Regions from separate parts of the Homo sapiens genome. Here all the other regions are linked to region 3. Evidence: fine-mapped expression QTL. A gene starts in region 3. Each other region holds a variant in brackets. All regions are shown on one strand. Distances are between the middles of the regions.

Region 1 (5,319 bases), 29 kb after region 3:
TTCCACAGGTTTCTCCTGTCAACTCCCAGCCTAAAACTTTGAAATATAAGCCAATTTGTTTATTTTTTCCTTTGAGTTTGCTATCCTGAGAACATCCAGTAAATCTAAAACTAAAATAAGTGAACTAACATATTGATCTGATGAAAAAATGGTTAAAAAAATACCATCTTAATTCAAGAGTTTATTCTGAATCACCTAGTTACAGATGCTGGATAGGAACAACAACAGCAACAACAAAAATTTCTGATTTTAAAAAAATACATAAGAAATCCGGGACTTTTCTCCCACTTCGAGGAGTACAGGTGTTCCCAGCCACTTGTGCTATTCCAAATTCATCTTAAGTTCCTGCTCCTTGTTTGCATCTCATCCAGCTCTGATTGAGAGGCTCATCTCATTAATTGTGAAAGAACTAGGAAAAAGACCATACCTGAGGAAGCCACATATTTTCACAAAGTTTTGCATTTTTTTTCTCTTTCCTGTCACTGAATTTCAGAGAACATGTACAACCATCTTCATCTGAGGAGTTATTGCCCAGAATATGGAAATTGCACGGTTTTAGATGTGAACTGTGCTACACCATGGGAGGTTGTACTTCAGGCGGTGAGAATCCAGAAAGGCAATTAGAAACACCTTGTACTAACCATGAGCTGAACATAGCACAGCTTTTAAAGCCAACAGACAAAGGCAATGAGAAGATAAGGCAGGCTTGTGAAACAAGGGGAGAGAATGATAACATTGCTTTTCTTCTGCCCTGTCTTTGCTCCTCATTCTCTTGATCTGTTGTTTACATGACCCTTACTCTTCTGACAGCTTCCCACATGCACTGGCCTGGTGTCAACTGTCCTTCACTGATCATCCCATCAAAAGCAGCAGAGTTCAGTAAAAAGCAAGACCCAGCCTCCAGGTACAAGGCAAAGGCAGGGGTAGATAAAGAGTTGTGGTGTTGTTTGTAGCCAGGATAAAATTCCTGCTCTGAAGTCAAAAATAAGTGGGAAGAAGCTCAGTGTGAACAAGTAACAGAAAACCAACTCAGAGTCACAATGATGAGGCAAAGAAGGGGAAGTTTGGTTTTCTGGGTGTAAAAGTAGGTAGATATAATAGCAAGAACAAACTTGTAGAACAAGAGAGACAAAGACCTGAATTAGAAATGCAGAGATTTTCATATTGTGCACCAGATGGGTGTTTTGAAATAACCTATAATAATGCAGAATATTTATTACTGAGTTTTTCCTAAGCCAGTTTCTGTGCTAAGCACTCTGCTAATTTCCCATGCATTTCTCACTCCTGACAACAACCTGGAGAGCTTTGACCTGGTGAGGTCAAAATAGTTATTCTCTTAATTTAACAAATGAGGAAGTGCAGGCTCAGAGAAAGTTAGTTGCCCAAGTGCAATAGCTAGGACACATCTTTGCCAGACTCCAAAATCCATGCTGTGTATTTTTTTCTCAAAACACAATATTGTTTGCTATTCATACTTTCAGTTTGAAAAATACAGAAACACAAGCAAGAAAGTAAACACCATAATTCCACCATGTAAAATGGATATAGCACAGTGCTGTTCACTGGAAATACAGAATGTGAGCCATATATGTAGTTTTAAATTTTCTAGCAGCCACATTCAAAGAGAAAAAGAGATGGGTGAAAACAATTTTAATACTGCTGTTTAATCCGATACACTCCCAAAATAATTATTTCACATGTAATTTCAACATGCAATCAATATAAAAATTATTGATGAAATGTCTTACATTTTTTAATACTAAGTCATTGAAACCCAGTATAGGTTTTACTCTTACAGTATGCCTCAGTTGGGAAGAGACACATGTGGCTAGTGTCTACAGTATTGGACAGCACCCACTAAAAGAATCCTTCCTAGCCCCTCCCCAGAGCAGCAAGGCTCCCCCTCTTCCCATTCCCCCAACTGTCCCTTTAACAACCACATTCCAGAGAGTTATATCAAACCAAGGAAGCCCCAAGGAACCTCCCACATAGCCTGTATTTGTTACACTACAATGCAACCAATGCTGAATTAAATCTCTGAGTATGCATTCTCAGCTATAGCGAGGAACAGGGTTAGCCAGTCTTTTCCTAGAAAGCCTTCCATATAAGGGAACTCTAAATCATTTAAAACTTATATAATCCTGAAAACACAAGGATGTATTTTGCATTTCTCATTCTAAACTTTGCCTAGCTATCCTAGAATAATGCAGATCATGCCAACTACTTGGCAGGGCTGTTGGGATAAACTTCCCCTGCCTCAACTGGAGGTGGGGAAAATGGCTGGCGCTTTTCTTCCTGTGTTTTGAAAGATAGTTTTGCTCTAGGAAAATGGAGCATTAGGCATACAGGTACAGCCAATGACAAACATGAGACATGTACCAGTGAGCACGGTAATGGAGGTGAGCCTCTCAGGGGAAGAAAACCAAATTTGACCCCTTGTAAAATTTGTCATTTTATAATGACAAGTAATTGCTCATTTTTACATTAAAAAAAGTTTGTTGTTCTAGATGATACACCGTTGAGAATAAATACTGCATCCCAAGGTAACTTTCTATTCTGGCTGTTTGCGATTGGCTCTACTCTAGCCCAGCTACCCTGTGGCTAAGACAAAGCTTTAAAGTCTTATTCACGCCCTAATAGAGTGTATTAAAGATTTGACTAAATGCATGTTTGGCTGCAATCACAATTTGGATTTGTATATCACATCTGGAAAAAATCTATAATTCTTTGGTCTGTGTGGTGT[A/C]ATGTGCAGCCCACAGTTAAATAACTTTAGTGTGAACTTGAATGAAGATCAATGAACTGAACCCACTCATGTAAAGCAGGTAAACTGTTTTAACTGAATTACTGATAGATCTGTATTATACTCCAGACAGCCTTGCACTCTGGGCTATGAAATACCTTCTTATCTGGTTTTCCACATAAAGTACTTTCATTTTTCCTCCTTGATCACTACACTAAAATGACAAGAGCCATTAGATGATGACACAGATTCATTCTTGGCAGAGTCATGTTGTTTAAAAAACAGAAGAAATGCAGATGTCTAACAACACCCTGCACTGAAGCCTGACATTTCAACAGCATTAGAGGCAGCCTGCTTGGTTTCATCTTAAGTGCATTAAGCTCTGCAGGCTGGGACATGGTGGCATTGATGTATCTGACACCATGCTCTATTTTCTCCCCTCTAACCTTTAAAGTCAAAGTAACTACTAGTGTGTTCCCCAGAATTCCATCTTAGAGTCATTAGAGATCAGGAGATCAAGAGGAGACCTTGAGACCAGCCTTGTAACTCCCTTGTCTTACACATGAGCAAACTGAGGTTAAGTGATTTGCCCAAGATCTCCTGGGGCCAGGGTGGTCATACTACTTAGAACACTGGATTGATTCTACCCTCGATTGCCAAGCAAGCCCATTATTTTTTTTTAACTGTAATTTTAGGGTTTTTTTCCAGCTTTAGACTCAAGTGCTGACCATTGACAGCATGGGATGCAGCAAGTGGCATGTCTATACAACACCTTTCCTATGCACTGTCTTGCTTCAGTTTTAGAAGCGGGTCCTCCAAGAACAGGCATTTGGCAAAACTCTGGAGAACGTTTCCTGCTCAAAGGAAGGTAAAGTCCCAGCCCAAGGGAGCCAAAGAAGATTAAAACAAAATATTACTTCAGGTCATGACTTGGTGACCTAGCCTACAATGACTCCATCTGTCTATCTATCATCTCTCTTCTACCCATTCATCCGTCCATCCATCTTACATAAGTACCTACTAAAAATGGATACTTAGCTTGTATTAAGCACAAAATATCTGGAAAGTTGATCACCTCCCAAGCAAAGATATTTTGTGTAATTTAAATAAATTCCCAATATTAGCTTTTCTACTTACTGTTGGAGTCCCATTTTATGGAATCATTGAAGCCTTGAGGGTGCAGGGGTATGTTGATGATGATTTAGGATTTCTGTGATTATTATGTCTGCTCTGTCCTCCTCCTGCCTGTTCCTGTCTCTATTTTTCAATTTCTCTCTAATCCTGACCATAGTGAGCAAGGGTTAGACATCTCCACCTCCCCACCAGCCCCCAGCCCTTATCCCCCTTTTATCCCCCCATTCAAGTTCTCTGTACTTTGCTTATTTACTTGGCAATTGCTTCTTGATGGCTGGGGCCTATTAAGGATCCTGTCCTAGGGACTGATGATACAAAGCTGAGCTGTACAAGGTGGCCCCAGCCTGGTTTTCTAAGGGCTAGGAGAATGGTCTGAGCCGAACAACACTGCAGCAACAAGAGCTGGATAAACATTCCCACAGGCAAGAACATTCACACAGAAAGTTAAGGAGAGTAAGAGTCAGCCTGGAAAAGGGCAGCACCAGCAGAGACAGGGCATGAGCAGGGGATGGAGAAACACAAAGGCAACTTACCTTCTGTGAGCTGCAAGGCTCAGCGTGGTTGCAACAAAAGGGTGGGTGGGGACAGTGGGAAACCAGCATGGTTAGAGAGCACTCCATCAGGCTTTGTGGACAATAAATTAACTTGCATGTAGTAGGGTGAGAAGCATCTGCTTGTCAACTGACATTTAAATAGCAATTGCCAGTGGAAAGTAAGCATATGGTTAGTTGAATGAAGAGCCAGAAAGAGACAAATACATCCAATAAAAGATTTTAGCACTTTCTCAATTTATATGTTAGTGTTTGCAATCTGCTTCTGCAAGTCAGCTGAGATGTTGATCTCACTCACTGACCTTGTCTGACCCGAGGCGTCCAAATCAGCACCAACCTTGGTTTAGTCTTTAACGGCTGAGACAGAATTCTCAAAGGAGTGTTCCCTGGAACAGCAGCATCAGCGCCACCTGGGAACTTCTTAGACATGCAAATTCTTAGGCTCCAACCCAGATCTCCTGAATCAGAGACTCTGAGGGTGTGGCCCACAATCTGGGGTTAACAAGCCCTCTGTTGACTCTGCTGCTCACACAAGTTGGAGAACACTGGTCTAAGAGAAGCATAAATTGAGGTGGAGCCCCTGGCTCAGTGGGCACTTGTAGGGACCCTAGCACTGTCACTGAAGCCTTTAAAGCATCACATTTTCATCAGTGTCTACAGTCAAAGCAGACGGTAGCTCCAAACTCCCTCCCTCTGGTTCCACTCCTAGACAACCGTCCTGCCAGTCCCACTTATTTCCACACACAGCTCTTCCTCATCCTGTCTTCTTTCTTCTCCTATCCTTTCTCCCTCTGTCTCTTTTTCCCTCCCCTTTCCTCTTATTTTTCCCCACCTTTCCTTTTTTGCTTCCATTTCTCCTCTTTCTGTACATGTTTCTCCAGTATGTAAAGCAAT
Region 2 (5,343 bases), 68 kb after region 3:
ATCACATGTATCTTATAAAGAGTAAATGAATATGTAAAGCACTTTGTATGATATCTGACATGTGGTAAGTACTCAGTAAGTGTTCATTGTTATTGTTATGTAGTTTCATTTCTTACCTTCTATATCCAGCCATCCACGTATCCTCAGCTTCAGCCACATTAAGCTGCTCCTTACTTTCCAAGCACCATGCATTTTTCATGTTTCTACTTCTTTCAGTTCTCTCTGCCTAAAACTCTCTCCTGCTGCTTCTCACCTAGCAAACTCCTATTTGTCTGCAAAGTCTAATTCAAATGTCCCTTTCTCTGAGATATATGCCTTAAGCAGAGCAGATAGAATGACTTGGCCTCCTTTTTATATGTTCATAAGACTTTATATATAACCTTCTATAAAAGCAGCACTTATCCTTCTGCTTTATGGTTAGTTGTTTAAAAGTCTGTCTCTGCCATCAGATAGCAGACCTCTCAAGAGACAAGTCATAACCGTCTTTTTGTCTGCAGTACCCAGCATGGGACTGTATGCTGTGTTTAATTGGATCCTTCTGTGTAGAGGTTGTATTCTCTCCCCAGGTCTGTTGGCTTGTGTGATGCCAAGGCCAGTGTCTTTTATGCCCTTATAGCTCAGAACTCAAAGATTTCTTTGGTGATAATGAATACCCTCCACAGCCATGGCTTCTGATAGGCAGTTCTCAGAGCTTCGGTAGTTTAAACAAAGAACTTGCCTTTCTTTTTTTTTAAATCATTCTGGCAAGGGGATAGACATCTATCATGTGCCCAGATATGAGTTGCCTGCTGAGGGAAGACAGAAGGAGAAAGTTAAGAAAATGACAAGACTAGTGACCTTGTGAAGTGGTGTACAGAACTGAGAGCCAGACCTGACCTTCTCATGTGGGATAGGTTATCTCACACATGCTTGGAACAACCTGGGACTCACAGTAGGGCAAGCATGTCTCGGTTAAGGAAAAGGATCTTGGAGGTAGGAGTCCTTGGTTGGGTTGTGAAGTATATTTATGCAAACCTCCACAGTCAGCACAAACACACATGAACACACACATGTTCACATCCACAAATGTGCACATACATTTTCCTGTCCCTCCCACTCCCCACACCCTGCACTCTGCCATCACTATAATGCATTGTTTAAAAATCAGGCCTAAATAACACAGTGTCTTTTCTGTCCTTAGCATAAGTCAGTGGCCTTGAGTCCTTCAAAGGCTGGAGGCATGAAAATGGTTTCTTAAAAAGAATGTTGACATTTTCAGCTTTTGGTGAATAGCTCCTGACTTCAGTGGATTTTAGTAACCCATTTCGCACACGCACGCCCACAAATGTACACCCTTTGTGATCACCTTTTCTCCTCTTTTTAGTTGACATGTAATAATTGTACATATTTATGAGATACAGAGTGATAGTTCAGTACATGTATATAGTATGTAATGATCAAATCAGGGAAATTAGCATGCTTATCACCTCAAACATTTCTCATTTCTTTGTGTAGGGAACTTTCCAAATCCACTCTTCCAGCTTGTTGAAAACATACGATATATCATTAACTATAGTCATCCTACACTGCTATAGAACACTAGAACTCATACCTCCTCTCTAGCTGTAATTTTGTATCCATTAGCCAACTTCTCCAGATCCTCTCCTCCCCTTATCAGACTCTTGATCACCACAATTCCATTCTCTACTTCTATGATGTCAATTTTTTTTATCTCCCACATGAGTGAGAACATGTGGTACTTGGTTTTCTGTGCCCGATATTTCACTTAACTTCTTCCAGTTCCATTCATGTTAAAGTGAATGAGAGAATTTTATTTTTTTGTAGCTAAATAGTATTCCATTGCATATATACATCACATTTTCCTTATCCATTCATCTTTTTATAAAAATTTTGGTTGATTCTATATCTTGGCTATTGTGACTAGTGCTGCAATAACCACAGAAGTGCAGATCTCTCTTTGATAACCTGAATTCCTTTCCTTTGGATAAATACCCAGTATTGGGATTTCTGGGTCATACGGTAGTTCTATTTTTAGTTATTTGAGAAACCTCCATACTGTTTTTCATATAGCTGTACTAATTTACATGATCACCAACAGTATGTCAGAGTTCTCTTTCCTTTACAATCTCACTAGCATTTGTTTTTTTTTTTTTT[C/TC]TCTTTTTAAGCCATTCTAGGCTAAAAAGGTCTCTGATCTCTGTGGTTTTGGTTTGTATTTCCCTGATGATTAGTGATGTTGAATTTTTTTCATATACTTATTGGCCACTTGTGTCTTTTTTTTTAGAGAAATGTCTATTCAAATCATTTGCCCATTTTACATCAGATTATTCAGTTTTTTGCTTTTGAGTTATTTGAATTCTTTGTAGATTCTGGATATTAGTCTCTTGCTGGATGTATAGTTTGCAAATATTTTCTCCCATTCTACAGGTTTTCTCTTCACCCACTTCATTGTTTCCTTTGCTGTGCAGAAGCTTTTTAGTTTGATATAGTTCCATTTGCCTATTTTTTGTTGTCTGTGCTTTTGAAGTCTTACCCAAAAAATCTTTGCCTAGACCAACATCCTGAAGCATTTCCCCTATGTGTTCTTCTAGTAGTTTTATAGTTTCAGGTCTTGCATTTATTTAAATCTTTATCCAATTTTGAATTAATTTTTGTATATGGTAGGAGATAAGAGCCTAGTTTCATTTTTCTGCATTTGGATATCTAGTTTTCCCAGCACCATTTATTGAAGAGAGTGTCCTTTCCCCAGTGTGTATTCTTGGCACCTTTGCTGAAAATCAGTTGGCTGTAAATATATGGATTTATTTCTGGATTCTCTTGTTATGTTGGTCTATATGTCTGTTTTTATACCATTATGCTGTGTTGGTTACTATAGCTTTGTGGTATATTTTGAAGTCAGGTAGTATGATGCTCCCTGCTCTGTTATTTTTGCTCAGTATTGCTTTGGCTATTTGGGGTCTTTTGTGGTTCCATACTAATTTAAGGTTTTTTTTTTTCTATTTCTGTGAAGAATGTCATTGGTATTTTGATAGAGATCTGTAGCTTGCTTTGGGTAGTATTGTCATTTTAACAATATTCTTTTAATCCATGAGCATGGGTTATCTTTCCAATTTTTTTGTCTTCAAGTTCTTTCATCAGTGTTTTGTAGTTTTCATTGCAGATATCTTTAGCCTTTTTGGTTAAATGCATTTCTAACTATTTTTCATAGCTATTATATATGAGATTGCTTTCTTGATTTCTTTTTCAGCTAGGTCGTTATTGGTGTATAAAGACACTACTGATTTTTGCATGTTTTTATCCTGCAACTTTATTGAATTTGTTTATCATTTCTAAGTTTTTTGGTGAAGTCTTTAGGCTTTCCTATATGTAAGACCATGTTGTCTGCAAAGAGGGACAATTTGATTGCCTTTTTTTCAGTGTATATGCTTTTTCTTTTATCTAATTACTCTGGTGAGGACTTTCAATACAATGTTGAAAAAGAGTGGTACAAGTGGGCATCCTTGTCTTGTTCCAGTTCAGTATGATATATGCGGTGGGACTGTCATATATGGCTTTTATTATGTTGAGGTATGTTTCTTCTATACCTAATGTTTTTTAGAGTTTTTATCATGATGGAATGTTAAATTGTGTTAAATACTTTTTCTGCATCTATTGAAATGACCATGTGGTTTTTATCCTTCATTCTCTTGATGTTGTGTATCACATTTATTGATTTGTGTGTGTTAAACCATCCTTACGTCCCTGGAATGAATCCCATTTGATCAGGGTGTATTATCTTTTTGATGTGCTGTTAGATTTGGTTTGCTAGTATTTTGTTGAGGATTTTTGCTTCTATGTTCATCAAGAATATTCACCTAGAGGTGTGTGTACTTGTCTGGTTTGGTATCAGGGTAAATCCTGGCCTCATAAAATCAATTAGGAAGAATTCCTGCCTCTTCAATTTTGGGGAAATAGTTGGAGAAGAATTGGTGTTAGTTCTGATTTAAAAGTTTGGTGGGCACATGTTCTTACTTACAAGCAAGAGCTAAACTATGGATATGCAGGGGCATATTCTGGACACTGGAGATGCAGAGGAGGGAAGGTTGGAGGAGGGTGAGAGAAGAAAAATTACTTATTGGGTTCAATGTATAGTATTCAGATGACAGGTACACTAAAAGCCCAGACTTCACTACTGTACAATTCACCAATGTAAACAAAAACCACTTGTGCCCCTAAAGCTATTGATTTTTTTTTTTAAACAACAACAAAATAAGTTTGGTAGAATTCAGAAATAATGTGATCCAGTCCTGGTCTTTTCTTTGTTGGGAGACTTTTTATTACTGAGTCAATCTTGTTACTCATTGTTGGTCTGTTCAGGTTTTCTATTTCTTCTTATTTCAATCTTGGTAGGTTATATGTGTCCAGGAATTTATCTATTTTCTCTAGATTTTCAAATTTGTTGGCATGTAGTTGTTCATAATAGTCTTTAATGATCCCTTGTATTTCTGTGATATTAGTTGTAATGTCTCCTTTTTCATTTCTGGTTTGAGTCCTTCTTTTAGTCTAGCTAATGTTTTGTCAATTTTATCTTTTTAAAAAATGTTTCATTCATTGTTTGTATTTTTTCCTCTATTTTGTTTAGTTCTGCTCTCATCTTTATTTTCCTTTCCTTCTACTAATTTAGGTTTGTTTTGTTTTTGCTTTTCTAGTACATTGAGGTGCATTGTTAGGTTGTTTATTTGAAATCTGTCTACTTTTTAAATGTAAGCACTTATTACCATAAACTTCCCTCTTACCACTGTTTTTGCAGTATCCCATAGGTTTTGTATATTGTGTTTCTATTTTCATTCATTACGAGAAATGTTTTGATTTCCTCCTGAATTTTTCATAGACTCACTGGTTGTTCAGGGACATTTTGTTTAATATTCATGTATTTATACAGATTGTGATTACTTTTTCATAGGGCTTCTGCGTAGCCAAGATAATGGTAACCTCCAAAGTATAGACAAGCATGGATGGGCCCCCTTTGGGAGACTGAGCTATGATGTGGAGAGTCAATGTGGATGGACAGCATTTGCGGGTAGACACCCAGTATCTAAGAAGGATTCTTTCACTCATATCTCATCCATGAGCAGATCTGTGGTGTTATTAAGAGGGACTCCAAATGTCATTTTCCTGGGGAGATCACATCCACGGCAGGTCTAGCTTATCAAGGAGAGTTGGAGGAGCTGGATCCCAACCTCAGTTTACCAGCTTGAATGGTCTGCTGACACGCCATGATGGTCTTGCACTCCTCAACCCACTAGAAATCAGAGATGGCGGCAATTCACCAGCGCCCTCACTACCACACCTTGCTCCCATGCTTAA
Region 3 (5,000 bases):
CCATCTCACAAATCTCAATTTGATGGAAATGTTCATTTTAGTGTAATTTCAGATTCGTTGCCAGAGATTCAGGTGATAGTAATAAGTGTCATTCTGCTTCTGCTGAAAAATGAAAAGGGTCCTGAAGTGTGGACACTGATTGGGAGTGTGACATTGTATCAGAAATGACCGAATTCTATTCCCAATACCAGTTTTTCCTTCCAGACATTTCTTTAGATTGTCTTTTACTTAGTGCTTCTCTATGATCCTGAATATTATTTGATTTTTATCTTCTTGCTCTTTTTATTAAAATCTGGGCACTCTAAAAATGAAAACAAATTTCTATTTGCAATGTTCACTTTTAAAAATAAAATTAATGGTGCTACGAAGAATTCTTTTTAATATCCTTTTTTTTCTACAAAGACTGTTTATATGTAAGGATAAATTCTATTTTAAAGGTTATGTGTATTTTTTCTAGATGTGAACTATTTATAATTACTTATGTACAGGAGCTTGTAAACTAGGCCCAATAGAAATATTTTTAGGATCTATATGGCTACTTTAGCACATAATTGTTTCTTTAAAGAGTATTGTATGATCAGTGTTATTTGGTTAATTTGTGCAATTTGTTTTATTTTATCTTAAATGAAAATTATGTAAAATGTCCTTGTCTTTCAGACTTTAAAAAATCTTTTTGTTTCCTTTCTGAATAAAAGTTATATCACATTTGCACCCTCTGAAAACAGAAAATAACTTGCTCAAGGACCTTTTGGCCCAGTCAGTTACTTGAATCATGACTCACACGTGCTCTTACAATGGGTTCCCAGAAGGAATAAATAAATTGGCCCTTTTGCTCCAGAGATAGTAATTTAGCCAATTGTAAGATCAGAGTCTGCAGACAGGTGAGTAATGGTCAAAGCATTTCAGTCTCCCCGAGGGGTTAACCAAATAGAAATGAAAGAAGGGGGAGAGGGAGGGAGGGAGGGAGAGAAGGAGCCTGAGGCAGATATGGAACGATCTCTGCAGAGGAATTACAAAGAAAGTCATTTAAGCCCCTTTACAGACCAGCTCTGCTGGGAGGATGCAGAAATAAATGATCAGCGTCCCGGCGTGAGAGAGCTGCCCCCAGAAGTGGCCGGGGGAGAAAAGGGTGAAGAGGAGCTAAAGCTTAGGAGGCGATTTCCACGGAAATGGATGCTCCCTAAGGATGTGCGGAAAGGGGATGGGAATGTGCGGATTGGGGGCGGGGGCACCAACGCACTCCGGCGGGCAAGCGGTCTCCCGCACCACCTGCTGCAAGGCTCGGGAAGGAAGGCGAAGATAGCACCGGGGCATCCCCGGGAGTCCGCAAGGTGGGTCACTTGGACTTTGCGGAAAGAAGACGAATTTGAGGGGTGTGGGGAGCAGCCAGAGGCCGAGTCCGAGGCTGGGATGGCCTTTCAGGAGAGGACGTGGGAGTATGTGCTAATAATCGGTGGCTTTGGGGAAAGCAGAATGGAGCCGGCTGGCGTTTGGGAGACAAGGAATGGAGGAGAACAACCCTCTTCCTCACCCTGATTTGCTTTCTGGTAGGACCTCACGGCAGGTGTCCCCGGGACGGCGTTCTCCTAGGCTAGGCGACCAGGGCGGTGTCAATGCACCCTCCAGCGGTGCGCGCAGGCGGGAGAAGGGAGGGCGGCCCGGGCAAGTGAGACAGTTAAGGCAGTGTCCCCACCACACCCCCACCCAGATTGGCCACGCCGAGCTGGTTCTTGACAGAAGGCCTTCGCGGAGGAAGAGGGGGCACAGCTGCACAGGACACCCTACGGAGCCTGCGGGCGTGGAACTTTGCCAGGCGCACGGGAACGCGCGCCCTTCCTGTCAGCCTCCCGGGGCGCCAGGCTCCCGCGGCCCGCAGCGGGACAGCCTCAGTTGTGTGGGCTGGACCCAGTCGCTGGGGTACCGACCAGTCCTGGAAGGCGCAGAGGACGTGGAGTGGGGAGGCTGCCTTCCTATGTGCGAAGGGCCAGCCGGGCACGCAGTCCTCAGACCCTAGTCCGCACCCGGCAGGTCCCCACGGCACCTGCTGCGCCCTCCTCGCCGCTCCCCCAACCTCCCCATCTCAGAAAACTACCAGTTCTCTCCCGCCCCCCGGCGCCCCTTTCCCAGGAACGTGCGGAGGCGGGAGAAGAGGAAGACAGGAAGGGGGTGGGGATGTGAAGCGACCGTCCCAGCCTTCCCCGCCCGCCACCCCCACCCCAACTCGGCAGCCGTCACGTGATGCCTGGAGTGGGAGGTGGGGAGAAAAGGCGAGACTTTTGTGGGTGCTCCCGATCGCCAGTAGTTCCTTCAGTCTCAGCCGCCAACTCCGGAGGCGCGGTGCTCGGCCCGGGAGCGCGAGCGGGAGGAGCAGAGACCCGCAGCCGGGAGCCCGAGCGCGGGCGATGCAGGCTCCGCGAGCGGCACCTGCGGCTCCTCTAAGCTACGACCGTCGTCTCCGCGGCAGCAGCGCGGGCCCCAGCAGCCTCGGCAGCCACAGCCGCTGCAGCCGGGGCAGCCTCCGCTGCTGTCGCCTCCTCTGATGCGCTTGCCCTCTCCCGGCCCCGGGACTCCGGGAGAATGTGGGTCCTAGGCATCGCGGCAACTTTTTGCGGATTGTTCTTGCTTCCAGGTGAGAATACCCAGAGGCCAGCAGCCGAGGCCAGGTGCGCACAATCCATCTACCCGCCAGCCCTTTTGCCCCCAAGGCGCCCACCTCGGGGCCAGCCCTGCGCTGGGGCTGCCCAGCGGGAGTTGGCGGCCGCGACTGGTGCCCCGGGGCGCGAGGCTGGGAAAGTGTCCAAGTCCCGCGCTGCAGGAGGAGAGCGGGGAGCGGCGGGTTTGCGGGACTCCGGGCTGCAGCTTGTCCGGCTGCACCGTCGGGAGAAGCTGGGCTTGAGAGGAGGGAGGGTCCGAGCGGTGCTGGGTTCTGGGCGAGGGAGAGGGGGCGACATCTCCCGAACCCTGCCAAGTTGTCTGGCGCCTCCGGCACCCCGTGGGAGTGGCGCCGCCGACAGGTGAGCGATGCGCGAGGCAGCCTGCGGCCACGCTGAAGCTGGGTTGCTGCGCTCAGAGTGCGATAGATGTGGGGCTGCGGGAGCGTGGGTAGTTGGGTCTAGACAGGAGCGCGTACACCGAGAACAGCCAGGCCGAAGCGTCCAGAGGCGCAAAGGTCTCGCGTCCTCTCTCCAGTTCGCCTACTGGCTCCCGACTAAGCTCTGCAGAGCTGGAACCCCGACCACTGACCCTAGTCGAACGGTTGTCCTGAAAGCCGGGGCCTGGAAGAAAGGGCTGCGGGGTCGGGGATCCAGGGTGCGCGCGCTCACAAACGCCCTTTCCCACCCTCTGTGGCCATTCGGGTCGCCGCGGGGACGGCCCCGGAGAAGGGCCGCCGACCCGGGCTCGGGGACTTGCGGCGCAGCAGCGCTTGGCGTCTGGCACCTCCACCCAAGTTGTTCCCAGGTGGTCGCTCAGGGATCCTCAGAGCCCTGGCACAGAAACGCTGACTTTAAAAATTAAATAAATAAAAACTAAAAAGACGTCTGCGAATGTAATCACGAATGGTGCCAAAATAGTAATTAAGTAATTTGTAACCAATTAGCAATTAGGCAAATCCTTTGGCTTAGGCTGGAGCTAACGCACATCTCCAGAGCTACTTCACTCTTGCGGTGGTACCGTCCCCACCCTCCCTTCAACTTCTTGGGAAAAGGCCTGGGGTGGTAATGGATGGGCGCTTTGTGTCTAGAGCCGGGGTCCAGGGGTGGCGGGCACTATTCCACTTTCTTCCGTAGGACCCTAGGTACCCGCGCCGCCCCCTGCCGGTGTCAGCCACATCCAGCCCTACCCGGAGACCCAGGAGTGGTCTAAGCCTGCCAGAGGCTGGGAGCCGCCTGGCTCTGAGGCGTGGGATGGTCGTGATTTCCGGGGTGGGCTCTGTGGGGGCCGGATCTGAACCCGACTGCGTCTGTCTCGCAGGCTTTGCGCTGCAAATCCAGTGCTACCAGTGTGAAGAATTCCAGCTGAACAACGACTGCTCCTCCCCCGAGTTCATTGTGAATTGCACGGTGAACGTTCAAGACATGTGTCAGAAAGAAGTGATGGAGCAAAGTGCCGGTAAGAGCCTGGCAGCCCTCCCCCTCGCTCTTAAGCCTGGGCTGTGGGGTGGGAGTGAGGGGGCCATTAAATAGCAGGAAAAAGGACTGACTTTGATTTAATGCCCACACACTGGTTATCGCAGATTTAGTTTTACAGTGCTGGGAAAATGAAGAGTTCCAAGTTACTTTAATCTCATTAGAGTTAATTACCAAGGCTTCTCCCCAAGGGTCTTGGGAGGGGAAGTGCATGTAAATTAGTGGCTCTCCTCTTTTTATTTACTCCCTTCACCTCCCTATGCTAAAAGCTGATGGAGGTAGAAAATATATGGCTAACCAGCCCTGGCTTGGGCAACTAGACAGTAGCCTGTGAGCATTGTCAGCCTGAAATATGGAGCTAGTTGAAGCTCCCAGAGGTCAGAGCTTGAAAAATGTGTTTTGTCATAGAGGCACACCATATTTCCTTGAAGAACACTACAGGATCTTTGTTTAATTTTAGAACTAATGCATCAACTTCCAGGCACAAATTGCCAAGATCTTTCAAAGGAATGCCGTTCTCAGCCCTACCAGCTTAGCTGCTGGCTAGCTGAGAAGAAGTCCTGAGCATCCTGTGGGGGAAGGGGAGGTCTTGTGGGATAGCCCTCACTCCCTCTAGTTGACCAAGAATCTTCTCACTGAGGTAGAACTTTCCAACCCTCTCCTCACCCCCTACCCCAGCTGTCTTATCAGAAGTCAAAGTTCCCCAAAGTATATCTGGAACTTTGGGAGAATAGGTAGAGCTGTTACTTCAGTTTCAAGGTCAAAACCATAAACACAGACCTTGCCATTTTAAGGATATTAAAAGGATGGGAAATAGCATAACTTGATGGCTGATAGTGAATGAACCAAAGCCCCCACTTCCTTTAGTTCTGT

Direction of the effects. Positions count from the first base shown, and alleles are read on the strand shown. Sizes are in standard deviations (SD) of each study's normalised expression.
As copies of C replace A in region 1, the expression in tibial nerve of the gene that starts at base 2,305 in region 3 goes down (small effect, 0.27 SD a copy in GTEx).
As copies of TC replace C in region 2, the expression in prefrontal cortex of the gene that starts at base 2,305 in region 3 goes down (small effect, 0.31 SD a copy in ROSMAP).

The links. PIP is the estimated chance that this variant, and not a neighbour inherited with it, causes the effect. A credible set is the group of variants that fine-mapping cannot tell apart.
Region 1: its variant is the best candidate, but not a certain one, in a credible set for the expression of LYPD1 in tibial nerve (GTEx, PIP 0.51).
Region 2: its variant is the best candidate, but not a certain one, in a credible set for the expression of LYPD1 in prefrontal cortex (ROSMAP, PIP 0.59).

What each region holds. Positions count from the first base shown.
Region 1 is chr2:132,638,029-132,643,347 of GRCh38, reverse strand. All of the region lies in intron 1 of GPR39 (G protein-coupled receptor 39), which reads right to left. LYPD1 (LY6/PLAUR domain containing 1) reads left to right here. Exons shown (of 3, transcript NM_144586.7): 3 at 1-62. Among named protein-coding and RNA genes, the nearest start is that of LYPD1, 30 kb to the left of the region's middle. The variant A/C (reference allele first, on the strand shown) is at 2,744.
Region 2 is chr2:132,599,683-132,605,025 of GRCh38, reverse strand. The region is part of intron 1 of GPR39 (G protein-coupled receptor 39); the gene reads right to left. Among named protein-coding and RNA genes, the nearest start is that of LYPD1, 68 kb to the left of the region's middle. The variant C/TC (reference allele first, on the strand shown) is at 2,155.
Region 3 is chr2:132,667,510-132,672,509 of GRCh38, reverse strand. LYPD1 (LY6/PLAUR domain containing 1) reads left to right here and starts at 2,305. Exons shown (of 3, transcript NM_144586.7): 1 at 2,305-2,629; 2 at 3,973-4,110. The coding sequence starts at 2,578. NCKAP5 (NCK associated protein 5) reads left to right here. Exons shown (of 20, transcript NM_207363.3): 20 at 1-722. RefSeq lists an enhancer at 2,479-3,442.